Linked DNA regions of Homo sapiens: region 2 is linked to region 1. The links come from fine-mapping of genetic effects on gene expression. A gene starts in region 1. The other region holds a variant in brackets. All regions are shown on one strand. Distances are between the middles of the regions. Region 1 holds the start of SLC17A9 (solute carrier family 17 member 9). Region 2 overlaps TCFL5 (transcription factor like 5).

Region 1 (13,084 bases):
TAGAAGTATATCCCCTCCGGTTTATGTGAAATTCACATTCCTCTGGGCAGTCTGTTTTTACTTGATGAATCTGGTCACTCTAGGCCTGCCTGGGCCTGCTCCCGGCCCCACCTACAGGGGCCGCCTCCGCCCCTCTGAACCTCAGCAACAGTAACACGAGGGCCTGAGCCCAGTGATTGGGAAGCCCCGGTCAGCTCCTGCACCAATCCACCCTGCTACAACCACCGGGAAGGCCTCCCACCCCTGGCCTGGCCTCGATCCAGGCCGCCAGCATCGCTAGAGGGTCTGGAGCTCCCCAAGGAGCGGGCGCAGGGAGGGAGGACTGAGGGGCACGGGGTTGCCGCATCGTGGATGAGGACAAGCCGCCCTCCAGCCAGCTGATAGGCCCACCCTGAGGACAAGCCGCCCTCCAGCCAGCTGATAGGCCCACCCTGAGGACAAGCCGCCCTCCAGCCAGCTGATAGGCCCACCCTGAGGACAAGCCGCCCTCCAGCCAGCTGATAGGCCCACCCTGAGGACAAGCCGCCCTCCAGCCAGCTGATAGGCCCACCCTGAGGACAAGCCGCCCTCCAGCCAGCTGATAGGCCCACCCTGAGGACAAGCCGCCCTCCAGCCAGCTGATAGGCCCACCCTGAGGACAAGCCGCCCTCCAGCCAGCTGATAGGCCCACCGTGAGGACAAGCCGCCCTCCAGCCAGCTGATAGGCCCACCCTGAGGACAAGCCGCCCTCCAGCCAGCTGATAGGCCCACCCTGGCCCAGACGCTCCTGCGCTCACAGACTCTCCTGTCGAGGGTGGGGGCCAGCGGATGGTGGGGACGGCATCTGGCATCGTTAGCACAGATGAAAGAAAATGAGATGATGTGGCCACTCCTCCAACCCATGTCCCCAAGTCCCAGCCTCATCACCTGCCAGCCACTCCAGAAAGGCAGAAATATGCACAAAGCAAGCGCGGTGCCCGGGGCTGGTACCTGCAGAGCACAGCCTCGGGCTACAGAGCCCAAAAGGCGCCTGCGGGACCCACCTCACCATGGTGGCCCTGCAAGCCCATGTGGCCCATCCCCCACGCAGACCAGGGGCCACTCGGCAAGGGGCTCACCTGGTGGCCTCTCCTGGGCCCCGTCTTAGGCCAGGACTTACCCAAACTGGGAGCCGGCGCCCACGATGCTGTAGGTGAAGGCTCGCTCACTCTCCCGCACCTTCTGCGACAGCAGGCTGGTCAGGGCAGGGAAGTAAACCCCTGCAACAAGTGGAGGGAGGGTCTCTCAGGGTCCATCCAGGGAGGCTCCTCCCGGCCTATCTGCTCAGGTTTGGGCTGTGATTCCAGAGGACGTCCACCTGTCCCTCTAGCTCACCTCCCCACCCGAGGGACCAGCAGGGCAGGGCTTTTGGTGCCACTGAGGAAACAGACTCCTTTTGGGTGAGGCTCGCTCAGGGTCGTGCCACCCGCACGGCTGAGGGAAACACCCCTGCTTCCAAGCTAGCCCTCCCACCCCGCGAACACGCACATGCACATGTGCACACTCTCACCACCGGCCTCCAGCTGTGCTCTAGAGTCCTCGCACCAACACACACACATGCGCCTGCACACGCACGTGTTCACCGGCACACTTCTTGGCAGTGCTGCATTGTGCTCACACTGATGCAGATACACGCATACGCATGAAGATGCACACCTGCGTGCACAGACACCTGCCGCATGCGTGCACAGACACATACTTCCCCCAAGAAAGCTGCCCTTCCCTGTTTTATAAACTGAGCTTCCTCCCAGGATTTCTTTTGGACCAAGTGTTCTCAGCCGCTTTAGAAGTTTGGAAACCACCTTACCACCCCATGCAGCTCCTCCACATCCAGAGGGCTCTGAGCCTGACCTGGAGGGACTCTGCGAGGGGAGGCACCGCGGAGCCACGGTGACAACAGGAGCTTGTCCCCCAAACCCACGGGCCGTGTCTACAGGGCGCTGATGCTACCCTGCAGGGGGGCATCGTCAAACAGACGGCCACACACAGGAAGCGCCTGCCTGGCCAGCGCCTGTAACTTTTAACCGCAGAGCGCTCACTCATAGGCTCACGGCTCAGAGGCAGGGCCCGTTCCCTCGCTCCCTCGAGGGAGGCTGGGGGCCGCCTGGCGGAGCTCCTGGGGCTCCCTCCAGAAGTCCGATGCCCCGCAGCAAGAGCCACAGGTCTTGGGACACCTGGCGTCTCTGCTCTGCCCGAAGACAGCGTGCACAAACACGGCAAAGCCAGCCGCAGGTGGTGCCCACCGTTACCACGCAGCCGCCATTGCTGCCCCCCAGACCCCCAGAGTAGGCTCATGGGCACAGGATGACATCTGACATTGAGACGTGCCAGACTTTGAAGGTTTCTAGAAAACAGAATGTGCCTCAGGTGCCAAGTCATCGTAGCACAACAAGCTGGGCCCCGCAGAGGAAGCGCAGCTGGAGCGGCAGCGAGCCTACGGGGTCTGGCTGCCTGCTGGGTCCCCAGAGCTGCCCACGAGGACAGCCGCCTGCCCCAGGGCCGAGGGTCTTCTCAGCGACACTTAGAGGCATTGGTCAGCCCAGTCCGAGGCAGCACCACTGTTTTCCTCACAGCTTCAGCCTTGGGACCCTCCTCCCTCACCCCGAAGACCCTCCAGTAAACAAAGATGAGGGCCCCCACCCCCCGCCAGGCCTGTCCTCCCCTCCAGGTGGTTGCCGATTCGTTCATTCCTCCCCTCCTCCTCCAGCTCCTGCAGTGGGACCTGGGCAGTGCCTGGGGAGGCGGTGATGCTGGAGGGGCTGGCTCTGGGATGGGGCCTCACAGTAAACACACAATCCTAAGTCCTCAGTTGCACTCGCTGCACCCTCTTCTGAGGGTGGGCCATGCACTGGGCCCTTGTTCTCATGTGACACCCCGTGACCATGAGAGTGGCCTCTCTCCTGGGCAGACCCCCTTCCTCTGTTATGGAGACAGTCCCAGGCAGCACCTTCCAGGCCATAACCTTGGGGAGTGAGGGTGTGGAGAGGGAGGAGAACGAGGCCTGGGAGTGAACTCCCCAAAGTCTCTGGACTTGGAGGAGAGGGAGGGCAGAGGTTCTAGGGGAGCCATGGCCAGCGCTCTGAACCTGATGCCGGCTCAGGAAGGTAGGGGGAGTCCTGAGTGGGGGGTCTGGATGGCCCAGGACACTGGGGGAGGAGTGGCCCAGGCAGGGAACTGCTGATGGGTGGGGTGGCCAGGCAGGCTGGGTTGGGGCCAGCAGGCCCCTGCAGGCTGGAGGCCTGGCTGTTTCTCCAGGGGACCCCAGCCAAGTAGGGGCCCCTCAAAGCCCCCTTGGCCCCCCCACCCACCTTGTTCTCCTGACAGTTAAGGCGCTCCAAGGCCCTAGTATCGGAGGCATCATCAGCATACGTGTGACCAAAATGCACAAAACCCAGAGTCCCACAGCAGGTCCCTTGCAGCTGGAATCCACCACTGAACTAAGGCGTTTGGTGACAAAATTCAGGGGCAGGGGCAAGTTCACTACACAGGTGCCCCCTGTGATCCTGTGTATCACTGCAGAGTGTGCACCTACAGAAGGCACACACATGGCCACACGTACACCCTCATACGGGCACACTCACGCACGTACACACGCATATGGGCACGCATACGCACATACACATGGATACAGGAACGCACACACACATACACATGCATACAGGCATGCACACGCATGCATACCACCTGCACGCACAAGTGCATGCTCACACATGTGCATGCACACATACGTACGCACACGCACAAGCACAAACATACATGCACATTGCTTGCATACACGTGTCTGCAGGGACATATGCACTTGCACACGCACACACACACAGGTGCACGCATGCACGCGGGCATGCCCATACACACACTTGCACACGCACACGCACAGGTGCACGCATGCACGCGGGCATGCCCATACACACACACTTGCACACGCACACACACACAGGTGCACGCATGCACGCGGGCATGCCATACACACACTTACACACGCACACACACACAGGTGCACGCATGCACGCGGGCATGCCCATACACACACACTTGTACACCACCTGCATGCACGCATGCACCTGCACACACATCCGTGCACACCCCCCTTGTCTCCCCACCTGGTGCCAGAGAGCGTGAGGGAGCCGCCTGAGCTCCCCTTACCTTGGAGCAAGCCCATGAGGATGCGTGAGAAGGTCATGAAGGCCAGGTGGGCACTGCTCAGGTGGGCGAGCAGTGGGGTGACGGCCGTGATGGAGCCCCAGGCAGAGGCTGACAGCAGGATGACCTTCTCACCCCCAATCCTGGAGGGAAGACAGAGGGAGGTGAGGATGTGGCTGTGCAGGACCAAGGGGCACCACCCTGACTCAGGGCAGCCCTTGAGTGGGTGCTCAGAGCTGGGCCTGGCCTGTCTGCCTCTACAGGGCCTGCTCATGACCCCAGAGCTGCCTCGTGAGGAGACCAGGTACTCCAGGGGAGCGGCCTGCCTCCTCTGCCTGCAGGGCCCTGGGGCCTTGCCAAGCCTGGCCTCTCCCCTCCCAGCTCCCATCTTCCTCTGGGGGGGTCTTCTGCCCAGATTTATCCACCAAGCTCCTTCCCCAGGAGTCGCATCCTCTGTGTCCACGAAGCTCCTTCCCCAGGAGTCGCATCCTCTGTGTCCACCAAGCTCCTTCCCCAGGAGTCGCATCCTCTGCGTGCAGCAGCACAGCCAGCCCACTCGCCCCTGGAGGCCCCAGTGGGGCGGCCCCCACCAGCCAGGAGATGGGGAAGATGGGCAGTTACCGATCCCCGAGGTGGCCGCCCACAACCTGTGTCAGGCAGTAGCCCCAGAAGAAGCTGCTGAGCACGATGCCGGCCTCCTTCTTGTTCCAGCCGAAGTCCTGGCTCATGGAGACGGTGCAGATGGGCATGCTGGAGCGGGCGCAGTACAGAAGGCATGTGCCCAGCAGCAGCGTCCCCGTCCATGCCTGGCACTCGGGCCTGTGGGACAGGAGATGGTCAGGCCCTGGGGAGGCCCCACGGCCCTGCTGCTTCGAGTTCATCACTCAGAGACCTCCCTCAGGGCTGGGGGACATGGACTGTGAATGGGGACAGCTTTGATGGAGGGCAACTTGGCAAGCATTCAAACACCTAATCGCACCTATCTGCTGACCCCTGGGAGAACACAGGCAGCCAGAAATGAGGCACAGTGGCTCCTGGGAGCAACTGAGTGGCCAGCACTCGGGCAGGTCACAGCAACGACTCATCCCCACAAAAGGTGCCTGGGCCGGGCCCTGCTTGTTCCCCTCAAAGAGAACAGGGGAGAGGGTGACCAGGAGATGGGTGGCAGAGGAGTCGGACACTGGAGAGTCTCACCCCACCCTTCCCAAAAGGTCCTGTCTGCCCCTGCGGGGAGCTGGCTGCACCCCGGGTGTGTGCTCCCAAGAACCTGCCCCAGATGAGTGAGTGGATGACGGTGTGCTGTGGACAGAGGGGCAGGTATACGGCCTTCTCGGCACTCTCTGCAAGTCTGCGCCTAGACGCTTCCCACGGGAGAAAAGACCACCAAGTCGGGCACTGACCATGCCCGAGGTCACAGAGCCAGGCCGGCCAGCTCACACTCCCAATCCTGGTGAGGGAGGCCGGGCGAGATCTCAGAGGCAAGAACAGGTCACTCCAGCAGCCCAGAGCTGCGTCCTCTGACACCTCCTGCTCTGCCAGAGGCTATCCTGGCTCCAGCCCCTCCCCACGGCAGGGCCAACCATTAACCCCTGGAGTTTGGAGAAAGTTGTGTGGGAGGAAGTGCTGTCTGTCCTGGAACTTGGCAGTGAGTGTGGTTTCGCCAGCGTCATTTGCAGCCAGGTTCCACTCTGGGGACAACTGGCTTGCCCCATATCTGGCTGCTCCCTGGGTTACCACAGAAGGACACAGTCCTCACTGCCAGGCTGCCTAACCCAGTACAGCCCTGGCCTCCACGCCCTGTCCTGGCGTGGTTGATACCCGCAGCCCTGTTGTTTACCTAGCCCCAGGCTCTCTGTAAACAGTTTTCATTGACTTAACACACGAGGCTTGCAGAAGGGACATGGGGGCCCCCACCCTTAACTTTCCACTAAAAGCCACACAGTCCAAAGGTGCCTTTAAAAAGGAGCTTTAGAGCCAGGTACGGTGGCTTATGCCTGTAATCCTAGCACTTTAGGAGGCCGAGGTGGGCAGATCACTTGAGCCCAAGAGTTCAAGAGCAGCCTGGGAAACATGGGGACATCCTCAGCTCTACAAAAAAAAACAAAACAAAACAAAAAAAAACTTTAAAAATTAGCCAGGGCCGGGCATGGTGGCTCACGCCTGTAATCCCAGCACTTGGGGAGGCTGAGGCGGGAGGATCACAAGGTCAGGAGTTCGAGACCAGCCTCGCCCACATGGTGAAACCCCATCTCTACTAAAAATGTAAAAATTAGCCAGGCGTAGTGGCGGGTGCCTGTAATCCCAGCTACTTGGGAGGCTGAGGCAGGAGAATCGCTTGAACCTGGGAGGCAGAGGTTGCAGTGAACCGAGATCAAACTACTGAACTCCAGCCTGGGCGACAGAGTGAGACTCCACCTAGCGAGACTCCATCTCAAAAAAAAAAAGAAAAAAAAACAACAATTAGCTGAGTGTGGTGGTGTGCACCTGTGGTCCCAGCTGGGAGGCTGAAGTAGGAGGATCGCTTGAGCCCAGGAGGTCGAGGTTGCAGTGAGCCGAGATTGCACCACTGCACTCTAGCCTGGGCAACAGAGAGAGACTCTGTCTTGAAAAAGAAAGGGGGGGAGGTGGGGGACCTGTGTCCAGGTGGCACCTGCCCCGCACTGCCTGGCCGCTAGCTAGAAACAGCAGAAAGCTCAGTTGCACTGATCCTCACCCCCATTGAGGCCAGCACAGGACTGAGAACACAGAGCCACTCCAGGGCCTCCTTGGAAGGAGGAAGTCAAGAACAGCCCTTCCAGGCAAGCAATCTGCCCTACGTGGCAGGCGGCAGCCACAGCCCCTTCTCTGAGCTGGGCAGGTGGTGCTGGCCAGGTGGGCACAGGGGCACCCTCCACAGCTGCCGGGGAGACAAGGATGTCAGGCTGGAGAGGATGGCCCAGACAGTCGGCTACCTGAGGCCTGACTAGGACCCCAGGCTGGGAATCCTCCATCCTGCTGGGGGCGCGGGGGACGGGGGGTGTGCCAAGAACCGGAAAGCTTTGGGCAGCTTGAACAGCTTCCTCCCACCACTCTGCACTCCCTGAGCCCAGCAGCCTGCTTCCTGTGAACTTTCTAGAGCAAACGGCCCCTGTGCAGAAGCAGCATCCACGGCTGAGCAAACAGGTGGTCACATGGCCCCTCCATTCAGAAAAGGGAACTGTGCGGGGCCGGGCCAGGCGAGCAGCAAACCGGAGAGTGTGGGTGCCGCCCTCCAGCTCTGTTCTCGCCTGGCCCAGCCTTTGTGATGTGGCTGCAGGAGGGCGGGCTAGGAAAAGGCGTGCGTGTGGCAGCCTTGACCCACAGGCCCCTCCAGAATCCTTGGCGCTACCCAATAAGGGCCTGCAAAGGAAGTTGAAGAGCTGTGGCAAGGGCTCCTTTTTAAACATCGAGCCTGGGAGGGACGTAGTGAAGGCTGCGGCAAGGGCTCCTTTTTAAACATCGAGCCTGGGAGGGACGTAGTGAAGGCTGCGGCAAGGGCTCCTTTTTAAACATCGAGCCTGGGAGGGACGTAGTGAAGGCGGAGCCACTCAAACCAGCCGCCAGTGAGGAGGCCCTGAATCCCTGGGGAGCTGGCCCTGCCCGGCAGGCCTGGATGAACGTGGGTGGGGGAAGAGGAAGAGAGCAAGGGGCAGGGCCCGCTGAGGGCAGCCCTCCCCTCTAATTGGCGCCTGACAGGGCTGTGATCTGGGCTGCCAGCTTTTCCCATGCAGCCAGCGCTCCCTTCATCTGGGTGCCAACATCCGATGGTGGCACTGCCCCTTTGGGCCTTCCTACAACTCTTCCCAGCACTTCTAGGGTCCTCAGCCCTCATACAGCTGGGAACTGGTGGGGCCAGAAGGTGCCATTACCTTGCCATGGTCAGGGTAGGTACCCTGGGGACTCAGTGCAGGCAGGAGACTGCTCTGGAACCCACAGGGCCTGAGTCTAGGCCCAGGGTCCAGCCACTTAAGGCCTCAGCCCAAGACCCAGAGCCAAGGGGTTCAGCAGTGTGGGGGCTGCTCTCAGGAGCTCCCTGGCAGAGGCCCTCCCCAGCTGACCAATGGCCCGCGGTCACCATCTCGCCCGGTTTCTGAGGCGTCACCTGCCCAGGGAGCCTCCTACAGGCAGCAGTGCTGGTGGCCAGGCGACCTGCCCAGGCCCTGCTTCTCCCCACCACCAAATGCTCCGAGAGCTGAAGCCAGCGGGGAGCTCGTCCTCAGCACACAGCTGGCACGTGGTGGCAGGACCCCCCCCAACCCCGTCCAGCTGCAGGCTCCAGCCCGTGCCCCCTACCTGGCCTCCTGACTGTCCTGGCGCCTGCTTGTCAGGGTCATGCATACACAGGGTGGTTCCACCTGGCGAGGGGTATGCCTCCTGACTGTCCAGGACAATGCCCCTGGCCTGGGGAACATAGCCCTGCCTGGAAGAGCCCCAGGAACACTGGCTGGGATAGGGCACTTGCCAGGTCCGGTCCTGGAATCTCATGGCAGGGAGGAAGGACAGGGCACTCACTTCCTTCCACCTCCCACAAGGAACACAGGGGGCCCCACAGCCAGAGGAGCCCGCCCAGCTCAGCCCTCCCCACCTAGCATCGTCCCACGTGGCAGTATCTCAGCTCCCTCCCCACGGCCCCATCTCCACCGCTCCCACCCCCCCTCCCCTCACCCCCGCCACACCTGGACCACTGGGTGTCCCCGGCCATGTCCCTGCGGGCCTCGTCTGGGGGTGGCTGCATCGGGCTTGGGGTGCTCAGACGGCGTGGGCACAGCTGTGTCCCGGGGCTGCCTCCCAGCCCAGGCTGACCCACCCGGGCAGCACCGCCCAAGTCCACGTGTCAGTCCCAGCGCGCTTCCGTCTGGTTCTCTCAGGACTTGTCGCCCCCAGACGGCCACCAGGGCGGGCAGGCGGGGCAGGGCGGGGCATACCACTCGGGTGCCCGCCCCACCCTGCTGACGTCGGTCCCTGCTGCCCCATAGGAGCGGGGCCAACGGTCGCCCTGGCTGGGTCGCCCTGACTGTCCGACGCGCCCTGGCTCAGCCCCAGCAGAGGTTAGTGTGGGGGCAGAGGGGGATTCCCAGCAGCAGGCCGGTCAGACTGGGGCTTCAGAGAAGGGCCCTGGTGGTAAGCCTGGTCCAAGAGGTGCCAGCCCATCCCTTGGACACGACACGGAGCCATGGGGCCGTCTGTCCTCTGTCTATAAAATGGGGAATGATGGCAGTCCCTGCCTTACCGATCAAATAAAATCAGGGATAAAGTCTTAACCAAGTGCAAAGAGAGTAAAAGTACAGGGTCACTGATTTTTAAAATGGATCTTTCGGGGCAGGGATGGGTCCACTCCTGAGCCCTTGGACCAAGCCTGGGAGAGCTGGACAAATCCAGCGCTGGCCCATGTCTTCTCAGCAGATGCCTGTGAAGGTTGTCATTGGCCCCTGGGTTCCTGGACAAAAGGTGTCCTGAGGACCCATCACAGGCCAGGTTCTGGGCTCGGGGGCAGGGGTGACGGGGTGGGGCCCCCACTCTGTGTGCTCCTGCTGCCATGCCAAGGATGAAGCCAGCAGGGGAAGGCCTCAACCATGCAGCCTTTCCCCAGGAGGCGGCAGGGCCTGCTCCTCAGGCGTTGCCCCCACCTCCACTAGGGCCCACCTCAGTCCATCCTCCACGCAGCAGCCACCACCCAGGGGCCGAGGGAGACACGTCTAAGGCAGGGCCTTGCACTTAGAACAGACCCACATTTACCCCCTCCCTCCCCCTAGCCCTCAGGTCTCCAACAGCCCAACCCACTGCACTGCAGGGCCTGCTCCCAGGGCCCTCTGAACAGAAAGACACGGGCACCCTGAAAAGCAAGGTCATACTTTCATCCATCCTGACGTAGGGTAGGTGAAAAGATGGTGGCAGAGAGAGGTTTATTGCCCCAAACAGCCCTAGCCCATAGCCAGGAAGTTTGGAAACTGTTGCTAAACGTATCGCTGTCAACAGCACCCTCTTTGAGGTGATTCGCTTCCATTCACTCTGTGATGGTGATTTCCTACCGAGATCTGTGATCATGCTGCAGCAGACATTTGCCATCTGGTTACCCAAAGTCCCCTTCCTCCTGGAGCTGATGTTCTGGGGCAGGTAGACAAAAATCAAAGTAGTGAAAGGGGTAGGGAAGGGGTGTTACTTCAAATAGGTTGGGCTGAGGAGGCACCCCTGGACACCTGAGTGAAGGCTGGATGAGCTGAAGAAACGGGCCATGCAGGGATGGCTGGGTGGGTGAAGGGGCCATCTCACAGGGACATTATAAAGCTGGGTGCTGGTAGTGGCCAGATGGAGGCTCTCCACGCTTCTGGTGGATTCTGAGAGCTGCCCCGCACCCAAGCATCTTTGAGGCCTAAGGTGAAAAATTATGTAGGGACAATAGACAGTCAACACCTGGGTTTTCAAGGACACAGGGTGACCTTGCGGACAGGGCAGTCACAGCCAGCACCCACTGGCCTCTGCTTCTGGAAGGCTGCGTGCCTCCCTCTTGTTGGGCCTGGCCCACCTAACTTCTTGTTTATTTCAAGTGCTGCTATAGGGAGACGATGCTAGAGATTTTCCTAAAGCAAATCCACACCTCACTACGTATGGCGCCCGTTGCTCAGCCTCTGCATCCACACCCCCCACAGACGCCCCAGGAGACCCCGCACAGCTTCTTGTAAACCAAGACAAGCCAGCCCTGGGCCTGGGGCTCCTCCCTGCACCCCACTTAGCCCTGCAACCTTCCAGCCCAACTACAATTCTCAAGATGAGGAGTCCATGAAAAGGAGACTGACAGATGACACTTTCCTCTGCCATGACTGACAGGCAGCAGCAAGAGGGAAGACCGCGGTACTGGACATCACGTGCGGGAACTGCCTCAAAGGTGGGGGCACCTTTCGGGCTGAGCTAACCCAGTCAACAGCAGACTGGAAAAAGACAAAGAACTGTGTGAGATGGTGCTCAAAACCAGAAAGATGAACTCTGCAATGACGACAAATGGATTCGGTGTGATGTGGGCGTGATACAGAGAAACATTCTTGAAGGTTCTGGAGCAGTTCATTTTTCTCAGAGCTGGTAAACTCATTGTTCGAATCTTACAAGCACTAGTGTTCAACATTTCTAAAACTGGGAGGGCCCAGTGAGGACTGGATGGGCACACAAATCTATAAACGAGCACAGACGAACCCTGGGCTGCTGTGACCGCCAGCACCTCTTCCCGTTCTTCCATGACCCTCCATGGCAGAGAATTCTTGGTGACGGGTCAGCCTGCTTCACTTTCAAAGCCAGCTGGGAAAATTACCAAAGCTGTCAGTCACACACCGTGATCCACAAGAGGGAGAAAACCTTGTTTGTGTGAGGAACGCCTACAGATGTGTCTCCAGGAAGCAGAAGTCACAGCCAGGCGGAGACCTTGCCTGACACGGGCAGCTCAAGGCAACAGCAGCTCCACCGCTTCTCCCTGGTTCCCAAGCTCATCAATTCCACCTCAAATACACAGAGACCCAAGGACAGGAGGCGCTGCTGCACCCAGCACTCTTCATCTCCGAAGTGAGCCTGCGGGGTGACCAACTGCCTTGCATGGACGGACAGCTGGCGGAAGAGCCTGCAACGTGACCTGCATTTACAAACATGAGGAAACCCACTCACCTTCAGTTGTTACTCCTTTCATGAATTCTTTTGGTTATAGCTGTGCCTATGGCTTTACGGGCTTCACCTGATAAATGGTCTTCTGTACTATGGACAATTTGGACCCGTAAACCTGGCCTTGAACTAGGTGACACTGAAATGTTACAGACAAATCAGAACGTCACATTCCCTTTAAATATTCCCCGCACACATGCACCAGGCTGACTGGTGGATACTGGGGTGTGAAATGAGAGAAACAGCCCCCACTGTGCAGATGTGGGGACATGATTATTATCAATTAACCACAGGCTGCACCTCAGCTCCTGCACACCAGGTGCCTTGTGCCGGTGGCTCTGTAGCATGGGCCTGTTTATCTTCAAAGCCATTTTGTGGCTTCTGGAAAAGGCAAACAAGCTCAGGACATTGTATCTCCAAAGAGCACATCTCTTAAAAGATTCTTGCCATAGCTAGTTACACCAAAGGCCCATTCAAACCCCATGTTCTACTTTAACAGAAGTGAAAAACCACAAGCAAAGATGGCATTCCAAAATAAGGCAGAATATCTAAGACAGGAAGGCCATGTGTGCAAGGATGGTGTGAGCCTCCAGACTGTAGTGTGGGAGCTCACACTGAAGCATTCCTGGTGATGCCCACCTCCACTAAGAACTACCGTGCTGCCTTCTGACCCGTGAGGCTAATGGACTGGCACAGGTGTGTGAACATCAAGAACACTGTGACATGCCACTGCCACATAGGGAGGAGCAGCAGGTGAGGAGAGGCCTTCCCTGTTCTCTGATACCCAACAAACATGCAAGCTCTCAACGCCTCGCTCCATGATGCCCGCTGCTCAGCTTCTCTGCATGGGCAGTTTCTGAATTTCACCTCAGGCCCTTGAAGGGGTCAGTCTGAGTCCTTTCCAAGAACCCTACAACTGCCTTCCACTCATGAAGACGCTCATGGCCCTGAAAGCATGGTAGCCACCCAGAATCAGACACCTGTAGTTATCTCCTGCCTGGGGCTCTGGCAGGTGGTGGTGGGTGTCAGGCTGACTGGTGGATACTGGGATGTGCTGGCGTATTCCCTCTGTTTTTAATATGTTTGGAAAATTTCATTAAGCAAAAAAAAAAAAAAAAAAAGAGTAATTACTTAGGCTATTAAAATCAGTTTAAAATCATGCAGTGGGTAGCTCAAAAGTTCTACTTCCTTCACACCAAGGAAATTAGTTTATGAAACATTAAGTGCCCCAGTCAAGAGAGCAGCCGATAGGTTTCAAATTAAACAC
Region 2 (16,031 bases), 110 kb after region 1:
GAGACCAGGGGCGTGTCACGTAGGCACTGCCCCCATGCATGCAACCACAGTCCAGTCTCCCAGAAGGAAAGCAGTTGTTCAGTGTCAGCCATATCGTTTGCACAGTGTAGGTTCTGGGGGCACTCTTAACTCCCTGAATCTAGGTTTGCAGACTCCACTAAGGGCCAGCCCTGACTGCAGGCCTTTCTGAGGAGAGTGGTCAGGCTGTTTTGGTAACTGCTGCTTACCAGCCAGCTTGAGTTCAGCAAGTTTTGCCTGGTTCTTTTTTTTTTTTTTTTTTTTTGAGACGGAGTCTTGCTCTGTCGCCCAGGCTGGAGTGCAGTGGCGCGATCTCTGCTCACTGGAAGCTCCGCCTCCCGGGTTCATGCCGTTCTCCTGCCTCAGCCTCCTGAGTAGCTGGGACTACAGGCGCCTGCCACCACACCTGGCTAATTTTTTTGTATTTTTTAGTAGAGACGGGGTTTCAGCATGTTAGCCAGGATGGTCTTGATCTCCTGACCTCGTGATCTGCCCGCCTCGGCCTCCCAAAGTGCTGGGATTACAGGTGTGAGCCACCGCTCCTGGCTATTGCCTGGTTCTTTTAAGATTGCTGGGAAGGAAGAGGTTAAAATTGTTATTTAAGTGGTTTTGTCTGTAGATTTTATTTGTGGTATCCTTCTTTGTAGAATTAAGAGTGGTTAATTTTTTTCTATTATAATTGGGTTTTCTTTTCTTTTTCTTTTTTTTTTTTTTTTTTGAGACGGAGTCTTGCTTTGTCACCCAGGCTGGAATAGTGCAGTGGCATGATCTCGGCTCACTGCAACCTCCGCCTCCCAGGTTCAAGCGAGTCTTCTGCCTCAGCCTCCCCAGTAGCTGGGATTACAGGTACCCGCCACTACGCCCAGCTAATTCTTGTACCTTTTAGTAGAGATGAGGTTTCACCATATTGGCCAGGTTGGTCTCGAACTCCTGACCTTGTGATCCGCCTGCCTCGGCCTCCTAAAGTGCTGGGATTACAGGCATGAGCCACCACACCCGGCCTATAATTGGGTTTTCATAGAATATTTCCCTAATCTATAATTAATTAACTACATAATGTATCGAGTACTGGTACTGTGTACCAGTTTCTGCTTTAAGTTCAGGAAATAAATAACAGTGAGTGAGACAAATACTCAGGTTTGAAGCTCCAAGGTTGAATGTTGAGCTAAGGCAATTTATTTATTTATTTATTTTTTTATTTGGTGAGATGGAGATTTACTCTTGTTGCCCAGGCTGGAGTGCAATGGCACGATCTCGGTTCAACGCAACCTTCGCCTCCCAGGTTCAAGCGATTCTCCTGCCTCAGCCTCCTGAGTAGCTGGGATTACAGGCATGCGTCACCACGCCCAGCTAATTTTGTATTTTTAGTACAGGAGGGGTTTCTCCATGTTGGTCAGGCTGGTCTCGAACTCCTCACCTCAGGTGATCCACGTGCCTCGGCCTCCCAAAGTACTGGGATTACAGGCTTGAGCCACTGCGCCTGGCATGGCAATTTCTTTTAAAGGGATCTATTCAAACTTGCTGGGGCAGGGTGCAGTGGCTCATGACTGTGGGCCGAGGTGGGAGGATTGCTTGAGCCCAGGAGTTTGAAACCAGCCTGGGCAACATAGCAAGTCCCCGTCTCTAAAGAAAAACCAACAATACTAGTAGTGGTGGTGTTGCACACCTGTCGCCCCAGCTACTTGGGAGGCTGAGGTGTGGGAGGATCACTTGAGCCTGGGAGGTCAGCGCTGTAGTCAGCTGTGATCATGCCACTGCACTCCAGCCTGGGCCACAAAGTGAGACCCATCCCCCAAAGAAAGAAAATTAAAAAGCTAGCTAATATCTTTTTATGATACTTTTATACACATGGACTAACTGAGGGCCTTCCTCACCCTACTGTGAATTATGAAGGGCATTTTGCTCCGACATTTATTTAATAGACATTTATTGAGTACCTGCTATGTGGAAAGCCTTACACCGTACGTTGACAGTTTGAAAGTTGGACTTCTAGCTCTACTGCGTAGACTTGTGGTTAGAGTTCAGTGAGCTGATGTGTAAAGAGTGTTTCGCTCAATGTCTAGAAGTCCAAAAGCACCTAGTAAATGCCAGCTGCTGTTTTACTGGCAAAGTCTCTAATTAAAGTTCTAAATAGACGGGTGTGAAGGTGAGTAACAAGGGCCATATTGAATAAGTTGCTCAGTATCTGCTTGTTTAGGACTTTGCATGTTACTGAATGTAATATGTAAAAGTTTAAAAAATAGTCTAATAACAAGACTCCAATTGTTTATCTCTACAAAGACCAAGTTTCAGAATATTAACAGAGTGTTGGGCCGTGATCCTTTCTGAATCAGGGCCCCTTGGAGAAAGCTGTGCACGAGTTCCTGGTAGGGTATTTAGCCCGTGAAGGGCAAGTAATATCAGTCTTGAATGACAGAGTTATCTGCCCAATTTGGACCCCTCAGTGGTCCAAATGGAAGAAGGTGTCAGACACAAAATGTTGCTTCCAGTTTCAGGGGCTTTGGAGCCATCCCTAATCTAGAGACTTGAACCTGGCCCGTGAGAAGTAAAGAGGGAAAGCTCCAGGGAGCTTGTGGGTCATGGGGCCGCCAAGGGCACCCGAGGATGCTCTGGCCTCTGGAAGGCAGTGGCTGCCTCTGTAGACAAGGCCGTGGCAAAGCCGTGGGGCTTCCTGTGGTGACAGGCGCTTCCGTGGCACTCAGTGGCCAGGATGCACGAGCTCTGGTTCCCTCAAGTACTACAGGAGACGCTTCCTTTTACATGTTTGTTTTGCTCCGGTCTCTCTCGGTGATGACTTTGGGTTTTGACTATAGGCGCAGAATCCGCATTTGCTGTGATGAGTTGAATCTCTTAGTGCCGTTCTGCAATGCCGAGACTGACAAGGCCACAACTCTGCAGTGGACCACAGCATTCCTGAAATACATCCAGGAAAGACATGGAGATTCTCTTAAAAAGGTTAGTGGTAGGCCAGGTAGATTTTCAGAATTTTACAAATTTTACTTAACAATGTCCCTCCTTTTTCCTAAGGATAACTCAAACTATCCTTTGTTTCCTGGAATCTAACATCAAATACTAAGTCCAGTATGAGCAAAGCTCTGCTCTTTAATGATATAACTTGTCATTTATTAAAGTAATAGTCACAGCCTACATGTGTTACACTCAGTGTGTAAATAACTGTGAAGAGGCAATTGTCAGATAGCAAATTGGGCACCTGCTGTGTACGGTATATTGCACTGGGGCTGACGGGTGTGTAGGACATGATATTTGCCCTCAGAAAAACTTGTGAAAGGGATAAAAGCAAGAATAGAAAAACAAAAACCGGCCAGCCACAGTGGTTCACGTCTGTAATCCCAGCACTTTGGGAGGCTGAAGTGGGAGGATCTCTTGAGCCCAGGAGTTTGAGACCAGCCTGGGCAACATGGCAAGACCCCATCTCTACTAAAAAATACAAAAATTAACCTGGTGTGGTGGCGTATGCCTGTAGTCCCAGCTGCTCGGGGCGGGGGCTGGGAGGGAGGATCAATTGAGCCAGGGAGGTCGAGGCTGCAGTGAGCTGAGATCATACCACTGCACTCCAGCCTGGGCAACAGGGCAAGACCCTGCCCCACCCCCACCCACCCCAAAAAAGAAAGAGAAACAAAAATGCAGATAAGTGTCAAATAGTCTGATCTGGACTTCAAATATGCCCAGCAGGTTAATAAGAAATATACTTCTGTGGACTGGGTGCATATACTTCTGTGGACTGGGTGCATATACTTCTGTGGACTGGGTGACTATACTTCTGTGGACTGGGTGACTATACTTTTGTGGACTGGGTGACTATACTGTGGACCGGGTGACTGTACTTCTGTGGACCGGGTGACTATGCTTCTGTGGACCGGTGACTGTGCTTCTGCGGACCGGGTGACTGTACTTCTGTGGACCGGGTGACTATGCTTCTGTGGACCGGGTGACTATACTTCTGCGGACTGGGTGAATGTACTTCAGCCGACCGGGTGACCATGCTTCTGCGGACTAGGTGACTATACTTCTGCGGACTGGGTGAATATACTTCTGCTGACTGGGTGAATGTACTTCTGCAGACTGGGTGACTATACTTCCATGGACTGGGTGAACATACTTTTGTGGACTGGTTGACTATACCTTTGTGGACTCGGTGAATATACTTCTGCGGACCGGGTGACCGTGCTTCTGTGGAATGGGTGAATATACTTCTGCGGACCAGGTGACTATGCTTCTGTCAACCAGGTGAATATACTTCTGTGGACCGGGTGACTGTACTTCTGTGGACCGGGTGAATATACTTCTGTGGACCGGGTGAATATACTTCTGTGGACTGGGTGACTAGGGAGGAGCCGGCGTGTTAGCGCCAGCATATGCAGTCCCTCAGGACAGCCAGCCTGCCGTGATCCTGTCTGTGTGGTCGTGGCAGTGGCCTGCAGCAAGCCATCGTGGTTGGCTGGAACTAGACGTGTGATTTGAATGCAGGAGTTCAGTCAGCCCCTCAGTGGCCTAAAAGGAAGAAGGTGTCAGTCACAGGGCTGGTTCTGGGCCCTGCCTTGGGGGGACCCCAGTTCCAGGGTTCTGGGCCCTGCCTTCAGGGGACCCGAGTTCCAGGGTCCTGGGCCCTGCCTTTGGGGGACCCGAGTTCCAGGTCCCGGCCTCAGCGTTGCAGTGGCCAGGGTCAGTGGCTCTTTGGCCCTCTAGGAGTGAGCAGACCTTAGTGAAATAGATCCACAGGGTCCTGACTTTGTACCTGGTCCAAGCTGTTGGGGAATTGCTGCTGTTGACCCAGGCAGGAGTCTGACTAGAGAACAAACTAAGGTTGCTGCAACAAACAAGGACCTCTTCCAAGAAGGGCTCCCAGGCCTGGCGCAGTGACTCATGCCTGTGATCCCAGCACTTGGGAGGCCGAGGCGGGTGGATCATTTGAGGCCAGGAGTTCGAGACCAGCTTGGCCAACATGATGAGACCCCCGTCTCTATTAAAAATACAAAAATTAGCCAGGCGTGGTGGCGCCTGTAGTCCCAGCTACTCAGGAGGTTGAAGCAGGAGAATTGTTGAACCCGGGAGGCGGAGGTTGCAATGAGCCAAGATAGCACCACTGCACTGCAGCCTGGGTGACAGAGCGAGACTCCATCTCAAAAGAAGGGCTCCTGTGTCTACGTCATGGTGGGGCTAGAGAGAGGTCCCCGCAGCTGGGCTGTGTTGAGTGAGGGCTCGTCTCTTCAGCGCCAGGCAATAGTTTGTCTTGTCTCTGTCCCTTTTCTGTGTCCACATGACATTTACATCTTGCGAGTTGCATAATTTAAGTTGTTTATTTACATTATACATTTAATTGCATTCTATAGCGATGCTATGTTGAATGTATTCTGATCGGATCGTTTATGGTTATTTACAATGCAGTTACTCTTGAAGATTATTGTTAGAGGTAGACTGTTGATTTGTTTTGATAAAATAAAGCTTTTGTGTTTTAAAAAATGCTTTAATGTTTTGGCTTTGTGTATCTATTAGTAAATCATTATTGATCTGATTTACTCAAGACGAAGGCATTTATAATTTTTGAAATTAAAAAATGTTAATTGTATGTATAGTCAAAGATTAAGTAGACCAAATGTTTATGGATATGATACTTTACATACATTATGTTTGCTGAATATTTCTTAAATGTAATTACATTGAATCTGATTACTTCTGGGTCACATTATTAGACCCACCAAGAAACAGGCTGAGGTCAAGTCAGTTCACAATTTTTTCGGGGAATTAGAACATAAAAAGCCGAAACACATGGGTTCTTAATTGTTTCTTTAGTGACTGCCCCCTTTTACTTGGATGCATATTTTTGTCCTTGAAGACGTAATACATGAGAGTTTTAAGTGATTTCTCTACATTATTTTGGTACACATTTCACTCAGCAGGTCTTTTCCAGTGTGACCAGGCACTGCTGAAGGTGCTGGGGTACCCTGCGCAAGATAGAGGCATGTCTGGCATGGAGGGAGGCAGGGGACGAGTAAACGTGAAGACAGTGGGAGCAGGGCCTTGCGGGTGGAAGGTGCTGCTGCGAGCCAGCCGGACTCGGGGGCTGCTTTGGATTGGGTGATGTTGGGTGGTCGAGGGAGGCGCCCAACCAAGGCCCAATGATGACAGGGAGCTGGCAGCCAGGACCTGCCGGCTGCAGAGTCTGAGGAGTGCCTGCCTGCCAGCCAGTGTTGCTGGGCAGGGCACCGGGGCAGGCTGGGGCCTGGTGGACCGCTAGTCCTGAGGGTTGGGGGCCTCGGCAGTCTTTGGGCAGTGAGTGACATGACCCATATCACCCTGCTGCTGGGGGACACTGGATGCTAGGGAGTAGGAGCTGGGCTGGGGTGAGAGTGGAAACCAGGAGTCTGCAGTAGCTGGAAGATGTGGCTTGCCGGGCGATGGCTGCCAGGGGGCGGCGCTGGGGAGGAGGAAAGGCACAAGGCTTCTTGTGTTTGTGGCGGTACCAGTTGGGGGTTGTGATGGGAAAAAGGCGTCAGGGTTTGGCCTCGGTGGCTGGGTGGATGGGGCTGTTTACTGAGAGGGAAGACTCAGAGAAGCAGGATCTCGGCATTCTGGGGGCGTCAGGTGGGGACATCGGGAGGCAGGGGATAGATAAGTATGGGGTGAGGGCAGGGCGGCGTCAGCCATCAGTGATTCACTTCTGTTCGTTTTCTAGTGAACATAGGAATTACAGTGAACACCTGTACACCCATGCTTCAGTCTCAGCAATGAACATTTACCGTATTTACTTTGTACACACGCACAATTTCAAAGACAATTATAGACACGAACCTTCATCTCTAAATATTTCTACATAAATCTCCAAGACAGGCCTTCCACAGAATCCCAGTGCCATGATCATGCCTCCCCAAGATAATAAGTCTTTTTCATATCCTCTAATGCACAGACTATTCAGATTTGCCCAAAATGTTCTTTTATTGCCACTATACCTGCCTAATTTTTTTATTTTAATGTTTATTTTGTTTTGTTTTATTTTTTTGAGACAGGGTCTTGCTGTCTCCCAGGCTGGAGTGCAGTAACATGATTATGGCTCACTGCAGCCTCTGCCTCCTGGGCTCAAGCAATCCTCTTGCCTCAGCCTCCTAAGTAGCTAGGACTTCAGGTGTGTGCCATCATGACCAGCTAATTTTATTTTTGTAGGGATGGGGTTTTGCCATGTTTCACAGGCTGGTCTCATACTTCTGGGCTCAAGTGATCCTCCTGCCTCAGCCTTCCAAAGTGCTGGGATTACAAGCATGAGCCACCATGCCTGACTAGTTTTTTAATTTTTGTAGCAATAGGGTCTTGCTATGTTGCCCAGGCTGGCCTCCCAAAGTGCTGGGATTACAGGCATGAACCACCACACCCAGCCAAAATGTTCTAAAAATGACTTTCATAGCTGTTTTTTTCCACAGTCCAGCACCCAGCCATGGATTATGCACTGCATTTGATGACAGTTTTCAAGCTCTTTGAGCTACAAGAATCCCCCCCACAGTTATTAACTATGGCATTGAGGCTTTGAAGAGATCAGGCCGGTTGTCTAGAGAATGCCCCACATTCTGGGTTTAGATGGCTCTATTTACTGTTGGTAATTTTAAATTTTGGTGTAATTTCAAACTTACAGAAAAATTGCAAGAACAGTACAAAGAGCTCTTTGTAGGCCTGTCCGGGTTTGCTCCATTCTCCCTGCCGGTCCCAGTTTCTCTCCAGGTATCTTTGGGATCCATTTGATAGTAAGCTGCAGACACCATGCTTCTTTATACTTAAATACTTCCGTGTTTTTTTTTTGAGACGGCGTCTCGCTCTGTTGCCCAGGCTGAAGTGTAGTGGTGTCATCTTAGCTCACTGCAACCTCTGCCTCCCAGGTTCAGGCAATTCTGCCTCAGCCTCTTGAGTAGCTAGGACTACAGGCATGGCCCACCATGCCCGGCTAATTTTTGTATTTTTAGTAGAGACCAGGTTTCACCATGTTGGCCAGGCTGGTCTCAAACTCTTGACCTCAAGTGATCCTGCCTACCTCAGCCTCCCAAAGTGCTGGGATTACCATTGAGCCACCACACCCAGCTAATTTTTGTATTTAATAGAGACAGGGTTTCACCATGTTGGCCAGGCTGATTTTGAACTCCTGACCTTGTGATCCGCCTGTCTCAGCCTCCCAAAGTGCTGGGATTACAGGCCTGAGCCACCACACCCGGCCCAGTGTTTACTTTTTTTGAGACGGAGTCTCGCTCTTGTCACCCAGTCTGGAGTGCAATGGCGTGATCCCGGCTGACTGCAACCTCCGCCTCCTGGATTCAAGCGATTCTCCTGCCTCAGCCTCCCGAGTAGCTGGGATTACAAACGCATCCCACCACGCCCGGCTAATTTTTGTATTTTTAGTAGAGACAGTGTTTCGCCATGTTGGCCAGGCTGGTCTCGATCTTACCTCAGGTGATCCTCCCGCCTCGGCCTCTGAAAGTGCTGGCATTACAGGCTTGAGCCACTGTGCCCGGCCCCCGTGTTGACTTTTTAATATCCACAACGATGAAAATCAGGACATTTAACATTGGTGCAAGACTGTTATTCACATTTTGCCTGCTGTCTCAATAGTGCCCACTACAACTTTTTCCCCAGTCGGGATGGCGTCTGGGGCGCTGGTTGTGTTTAGTTGTGAGATGCCCCTGCACGCTGGGGGCCCTGAAGGTGCCAGCCACTCCTGGGGCCTCCCTTGTGGTGTCTGTCCCTCCCTTCTTCACACCAGCAGGTGGTTGAGTCCCGCTTCGCATCTCCCTGCCATCTGCATCAGGCCCCGGTGTCGCTGTCCCTCACGTGCTGTCTGTTGTCAGGCCCTGCTGCAGACTCGGACTGGCCTGTCCCTTCTCTCCTCCTTTCCTGCGGACACGCTGTGACTTCTCCCGTGATCCTTCTGTGAGAACTCCCTGGACCTCGTGTCCTGTACTGGCAACCGCCCATTTCTCTGCTCTCCTTGGCTGCCCGGCTGCCCGGCGCTTGTCTGTACCTCCTGAGCCACTTCATCCTCTCTTGGATCCATTCCCAGCAGCCTGTGATCATGGCCTCCCATGCCGTTTGGTCACGCCACCACGCCCAGCTAATTTTTGTATTTTTAGTAGAGATGGAGTTTTGCCATATTGGCCAGGCTGGTCTCGAACTCCTGACCTCAGGTGATCCGCCCGCCTCGGCCTCCCACAGTGCTGGGATTACCAACGTGAGCCACCGCGCCTGGCCTACATACGGATTTTCATTCTGTTTTTGAACATGGCCACTGGAGGGCCTCTCGGCTGCAGAGCAAGCGTTTGTAGCTTGTTCGTGGCAGAATGAGCCGAACGCTGTGTTGTGACCTGTTTTAAAAATAAAGCATCTTGAAAAAGAAAAGCCATTCTTTTTGTCCTAATGAGTTTATGCCTCCTTACCTCTGGCCACCTGAGCTCCTTGGTCTGCTGTACCCCTCTGGCCTGGGCCGTGCTGGAGTCTTTCTGGGGCTCAGTCATTCACTTTGTTGGTTTTTTATGTGGGGTCAGTGGTAGTGCTTTTTCCATCATAATTTGCTCTTATCTTTATTATCCCAAAACCTTATTTCTATTATTTCCTTCTTGAAGTTTTATTTTTTTCTGGTATCTTGGGTTGAAAGTTTATTTTGTCTATGTTGTTTTCTAATCAATGCATTATAGTAAATTTGTCCTGGTGTGCTTTTGAAACATTTCACAGGTTAGGACACAATGCTTTCATTGTTTCTCAGTTTTAAATAGCTTGTAATTTTTTTTTTTTTTTTTTGAGATGAAGTTTCACTCGTTGCCCAGGCTGCCGTGTAATGGCGCGATCTTGGCTCACTACAGCGTCTGCCTCCTGGGTTCAAGCAATTCTCCTGCCTCAGCCTCCTGAGTAGCTGGGATTACAGGCATGTGCCACCACCCCGGCAAATTTTGTATTTTTATTAGAGATGGGGTTTCTCCATGTTGGTGAGGCTGGTCGTGAACTCCCGACCTCAGGTGATCCACCCACCTCGGCCTCCCAAAGTGCTGCGATTACAGGTGTGAGCCACTGCACCCGGCCGCTTTCTTCCTCTTAATAACTTCCTGGTATATTTTCCTGACTCATAGTTAGAGCTATTTCTTTTTTCTTACTAAGAAAATTTTTTTTATTGTTGGTATTATTATTTTTCTTTTTCTTTCTCTCTTTTTTTTTTTTTCCCAGCGAGGGGCCCTCATTCTGTCACCCAGGCTGGAGTGCGGTGCAACCACAGCTTAGTGCAGCCTCGTCCTCTTGGGCTCAGGTGCTCCTCCTGCCTCAGCCTCCCGAGTAGCTAGGACCGTAGGCGCCCCTCACCACCGCACCCGTCTTGTTGTTATTCTTCTCATGTTCACAAATC[T/C]AACATGAGTATCTGCTTTGGGACGTTGTCATCTCAATGTTTTGATGTTATAAAAATTCCTTTAAAACTCAACGATTTCACATATGTTCTGTTGCAAATAGATGCATTTGGATTGAGGTGCAGATTGAGAGTGCGATGACATCAGTACCACGTCTTTGGCCTGGGCTCAGCTGAGGAGGACTAAGGGGATCTGCTCCTCTCTTTCACAGCTGCCCCAGCTCCCAGGAGACGGGTCGTGGGCGGGCCCTGCAAGGGTCCAGATGGAACCACAACTCAACCCTGCCTCTGCCCAACTGTTCATAGTGAAGGCAGACGCCGGGACTAGCCTCATCACTGTGTGAAAATAGTTCAGAAGATCTTGCGAGCGCCTAGTTATGTCTGAGGATGATTATTTTCTTCCTTCCTTCTTTTTTTTTAAATTATCGTCTTTTAAATTTAGATGGATAATTAAGAATGCTTCCAATTTAAGGTTCTAAGCACAAACTCCAGATACGTCATGTTATGGACTTGCTTCCTGAAGATGAAATCAGCAGTTGATGGAAAGAATCCACAACACGCCTACAGAACAGCAAATCACAAATGGCTGTGTCTCCACGAAGCCAGGAGCTTTGCATTTGAAGTTTCTATCTGGGCTCATTTCCAGCTGTTCAGGGTTCGGATTCCTGAAGGCTTCCTTAGCATTTAACTCATTCTTTGTTGACTGAAGGCACTGGCACTGTTTCTCCACACGCAAACTGATCTTTGTCATAAATCACTTTTATAATGAGAGAGCAGCCTGGACACATTGCCACACCTTCCCCATTCTCCAGCTCTTCCTTGGTGATGGAGAAGTTATCTCCGCATGGGCAGGGACAGAAATATGTCTCCGAGTCCTCGTCATATTGGAAGTCCTCGATTTCCACCTCGTCATGAAATACTGCCATGGTCAGCGGGGGTTGCTGAAGGGGTGACGCCCCAGCAGTCCGAGACCAGCTCCGAGGGTCTAACTTCTCCGGAGCCGGCCCAGGCTCTGACTTTCATTTAATTGTCCTGAAAGGTGAATTCTATCTTGCCAAATAGGCAAGTGTTTTTTATATGTAGGCTTTAGGTGTCAGAATATAGGAAATTATCAAAATGTGGGGTCATTTTAAATTGCATCCTAAAACCTTTTAAAATTTGGGAAGAAGCTGGGCGTCGTAGCTCACGCCTGTAATCCCAGCACTTTGGGAAGCTGAGGTGGGCAGATTACCTGAGGTCAGGAGTTCGAGACCAGCCTGGCCAATACGGTGTGACCCCCGTCTCTACTAAAAATACAAAAATTAGCCGGGCGTGGTGGTACATGCCTGTAATCCCAGCTACTCAGGAGGCTGAGGTGGGAGAATCAGTTGAACCCAGGAGGCAAAGGTTGCAGTGAGCTGAGATCGTGCCATTGCACCCCAGTCTGGGCGACAAGAGTGAAACTCCATATCCAAAAAAAAAAAAAATTGGGAAGAAAATGAGTATATTTATATGCAGGTGTAGATTCTGAGTGCACACAGTAGTTGGAAATGGCAGCTTGCTTGGTTGGAAAGTTGCTTAAAAGTGGATGGGTGGAATGTTCCAGTCACTCCAGGTGGTTCAGAAGTTAAATCCATGGCAGCATGGCGCTTGTGTCCTCCTGGACTTGAATTAAGTAGAAAGTTACTACAACTCAGCAACAAAAAGACTACACAGACTGGGAACCGTGGCTCCCGCCTGTAATCCCAGCACTCTGGGAGGCCGAGGTGGGTGGATCACCTGAGGTCAGGAGTTTGAGACCAGCCTGGCCAACATGGTGAAACCCTGTCTCTACTAAAAAAACAAAAATTAGCCGGGTGTGGTGGCAGGTGCCTGTAATCCCAGCTATTCAGGAGGCTGAGGCAGGAAAATTGCTTGAACCCCAGGAGGCAGAGGTTGCAGGGAGGTGGAGGTTGCAGTGAGCTGAGATCACGCTGTTGCACTCCAGCCTGGGTGACAGAGTGAGACTCGGTCTCAAAAAAAAAAAAACAAAAAACAAACAAAAAAAAACAGAAAAAAAATGTTGAAAGCCAGGCGTGATGGTGTGCACCTGTAGTCCCAGCTACTCGGGAGGCTGAGCCTGCAGTGAGCCGTGGATGTGCCACTGCATTCCAGCCTGAGAGAGCAAGACCCTGTCCAAAAAAAAGACAGCACAACTGAAAAATGGGCAAAGAACTTGAATAGACATTTCTCCAGAGAAGATACACAGATGGCCAATAAGCCCATGAAAGATGCGCCAAGCCGTTAGTCATTAGGGAAATACGAATCAAGACCCAATGAGATACTACTTTTACACATACTAGGATGGCTATTCAAAAACAAAAACAAAAGCAAAATAGCAAGTGTTGGCAAGGATGTGGAGACATCAGAATCCCTGTGCTTTGCCGCTGGGGGTGTGAAATGGTGCAGCCACTGTGGAAGACAGTATGACAGCTCCTCAGAAGGTTCAACATAGAATCACCAGAGAAGCATAAACCCCAAAGAGGTGAAACAGGGACCCAAATGGATGCTTTTCTATGAATATTCATGGCAGCACCTTTCACAGTGGCCAAAAGGTGGAAATGACTCAAGTGTGCTCCAGCAGAGGAATGAGTAAACAAATGTGTTACAAGCACACAACAGAATCTTACTCAGCCATGAAAAGGAATGAAATTCTGACACAGGCTACAGCATGGATGGCCCGAGGTCATTATGCTGAGTGAAATAAGCCAGTCACAACAGGGCACACCCTGCGGGATTCCGTAAACAAGGCACCTAGAGCCGTCAGATTCAGAGAGACAGAAAGTGGACTGGTACGTGCCAGGGGCTGGGGGCCGGAGCGGTGTGGAGTTAGTGTTTAATGGGTACGGAGTTTCTGTTTAGGGTGATGAAAAGGTGGTGGCGGCTGCACAGCACTGTGAGTGGACTTCACGCTGCTCCACTGTACACTTACACATGCTTAAAAGGCAAATTTTATGCTATATTTTAATACCACAATAAAAACTGTATAAACCTGGATTTAATCGTGTAGAATGCTATGTTTTAAAACCAACTTATGGAAATTTTCAAATCTGCACAGAAATAGAAAGTGAACTCCCAGGTCCCTCTAACTCAGTTTCAGGCATCAGCTTGTTTCACCTATCCCCTCGCCCTCCCACCCCCGCTGAATTATTTTAAAACAATTCCAGACATCATTTCATTCATAAATATATCTTCCGAAAGAAAAGGCCTGTTTAAAAACACAACCGCATTATCAGTCTCCTTCCTGAAAGCCTTCACTCCTTATTACCCACCTGAGTCTCCTTCCCGAATCTGAGCAGAATCTCCCGTGAGCCCACAGGTGTCTCTACGGTCAGCTCATTTGAATCAGGATCCAAACATCACATTTGGTTGATAGTTTTTAAATATATCTTAACCCGTAATAGTTCCCCCTTCCTTTCTTCCTCACCGTTCATTTGTTGAAAAGGGAATGATTTGTCCCGTAGACGTTTCCACATTCTGCCCGTGGTGGTTGGCGCCTGTCATCGGGCCGTCGCCTGTGCCCCTCTCTTCCTCTCAGTCTCCTTCGGGAGGTTGAGACTGACCCCACCATTATAATTGAGGCCTTTTGTAAAAGACAGGTGGTGTGACAGGAGCAAGCTCAGCCCACCCCCACCCTGCTGGCAGGGTCTCCCCAAGGACAGAGCCATCTCAGCGAGCAGCACCTCCACCTTGCTGGCCTTGGAACCCTGAGTGTGTGGCAGTGCAGAGGGCAAGGCAGTCGCCCTGGGGTGGGGGTAGATGCCCCTGACTTGTTAATTGTTGAAACTTTTTAAAAATTTATTTTTTTGAGACGGAGTTTCACTCTTGTTGCCCAGACTGGAGTGCAATGGCATGATCTCGGCTCACTGCAACCTCCACCTCCCAGGCTCAAGAGATTGTCCTGCCTCAGCCTCCCAAGTAGCTGGGGTCACAAGATGCTTGCCACCACGCCCAGCTAATTTTTGTATTTTTAGTAGAGATGGGGTTTCACCATGTTAATCAGGCTGGTCCTGAACTCCTGACGTCAGGTGATCCACCCACCTCGGCCTCCCAAAGTGCTGGGATTATAGGCGTGAGCCGCCACGCCCGGCCTGAAACGTTTTAATATATACACTCTACCTTCTCTCACACGCTGGGTTTACAGGTTTATTAGCTAGGGCCCATTAGCGGTTGAAACGTTCATGTCATGTATATTTTACCACAATAAAATCAATACAGTGTGGCCAGACATTCTGAGTATTGGAAAAACAAAAGTACATGTACAGTGTAACTGCTATTTGAAAAAAAAAAAGTTAAAATCTGTTTATTATATAAATCCCCTTGTGAGGTAAGACACAAGTTTGTGAATGACACCTTAAAACAGCGTATTCTAAAGTCATTTACTTAGCTCTTAATTTGAACCTTTTGCACTTTGGAAGACAGCAGTTTTCATGTCAGTTAATTCAGTATGTTAACCGTCACTTCTTCACTGCAGGAATTTGAGAGCGTATTTTGCGGTAAAACTGGCCGAAGGCTAAAGCTGACCAGACCGGACTCCTTGGTGACCTGTCCTGCACAGGGGAGTTTACAGAGCAGCCCCTCGATGGAGATCAAGTGATCGGACTGAACAGGAATCCTCGGGGGGTGAACAGCCATTCCTTCGTGACCTGTGCACGCCTTCTGCAACCCTGGAGCTCTGCTCGGCTAGTCTGACTCGAAAAGGGCGTGACTCAAGCTGACGGGACTCCAGTAGGGACTTTGAGAGCACATTTTGTAAAAATATTTATCTAGACGCAAATGCTTATCCATGAATGTCCTCTTAGACCATTTGGGGATGAAGCCATCTTAATAATTAGTAATAATTAATTAGTAATAATTAGTAAGCATTTTCTCAATGCTCTGATTCCATCATGTTTTCTTAACATGATAACTTAAAAAATTGACATCCTTTGTACTTTCTTTAATCTTAAAAAGTACACGGCTTTTTACTTATTTACCTTTTAAATATGCCCCTTTAGCAATTGGAACAAGTTAAATTGTTAACTAAAAACAGTTTGGAAATTTTATTTCATTCGTTATATCACACCCCCTTGTCATGACTCTGAGTCACGTGCTGCTGTATTGCAACGTGCAGGACCATTTTAAACCTGTGTGCTAAAAATTTTCCAGATACTTGCTTTAAAGCTACTTTTGTCCACAAATGAAATACTGTCACAGTAGACGCTTAAATGCCACGTTTTCATACCAAGAGTCATTCATTACTTCATGTGTCACAAACTGTGGTGTTTGGAATTGGGTTTTTCAATGAGTGGCTTTACTTATCAATCACAACAGGTAATAGCAATAGACGTTAGTGCAATACAAAGTCACCCTCAATAAATACTGTTAATTGGAGATGTGAGTTTGTACACAAAACATCAGACTAGACCTTTGTATGGGAGAGAATTTACTGTACATTAAATTCTTTATTTTTTGTTACTCTGTAGCCAGTCATTAATCTGAAGGTTTAATATATCATTTTATTGGGATGAGATCATAGTCTTTACACAAATGCTATGTAAACAAGTTACTGAATATTTTTCACCTCGTGGAGTTGTACACAACCTTTTATATATACACACCCTACCTTCTCTCA

Evidence for each region. PIP is the estimated chance that this variant, and not a neighbour inherited with it, causes the effect.
Region 2: its variant is fine-mapped to the expression of SLC17A9 in whole blood (TOPMed, PIP 0.99).

Annotation. Positions count from the first base shown.
Region 1 is chr20:62,948,658-62,961,741 of GRCh38, reverse strand. SLC17A9 (solute carrier family 17 member 9) reads right to left here and starts at 9,033. Exons shown (of 13, transcript NM_022082.4): 1 at 8,853-9,033; 2 at 4,780-4,977; 3 at 4,162-4,301; 4 at 1,139-1,238. The coding sequence starts at 8,911. RefSeq lists silencers at 8,813-8,912, 8,923-9,242 and an enhancer at 8,794-9,623.
Region 2 is chr20:62,840,958-62,856,988 of GRCh38, reverse strand. TCFL5 (transcription factor like 5) reads left to right here. Exons shown (of 6, transcript NM_006602.4): 5 at 2,832-2,973; 6 at 14,892-15,984. The coding sequence ends at 15,014. It overlaps COL9A3 (collagen type IX alpha 3 chain), which reads right to left. Exons shown (of 32, transcript NM_001853.4): 32 at 15,830-16,031. It also overlaps the pseudogene DPH3P1. Among named protein-coding and RNA genes, the nearest start is that of TCFL5, 13 kb to the left of the region's middle. RefSeq lists an enhancer at 9,158-9,452. The variant T/C (reference allele first, on the strand shown) is at 10,403.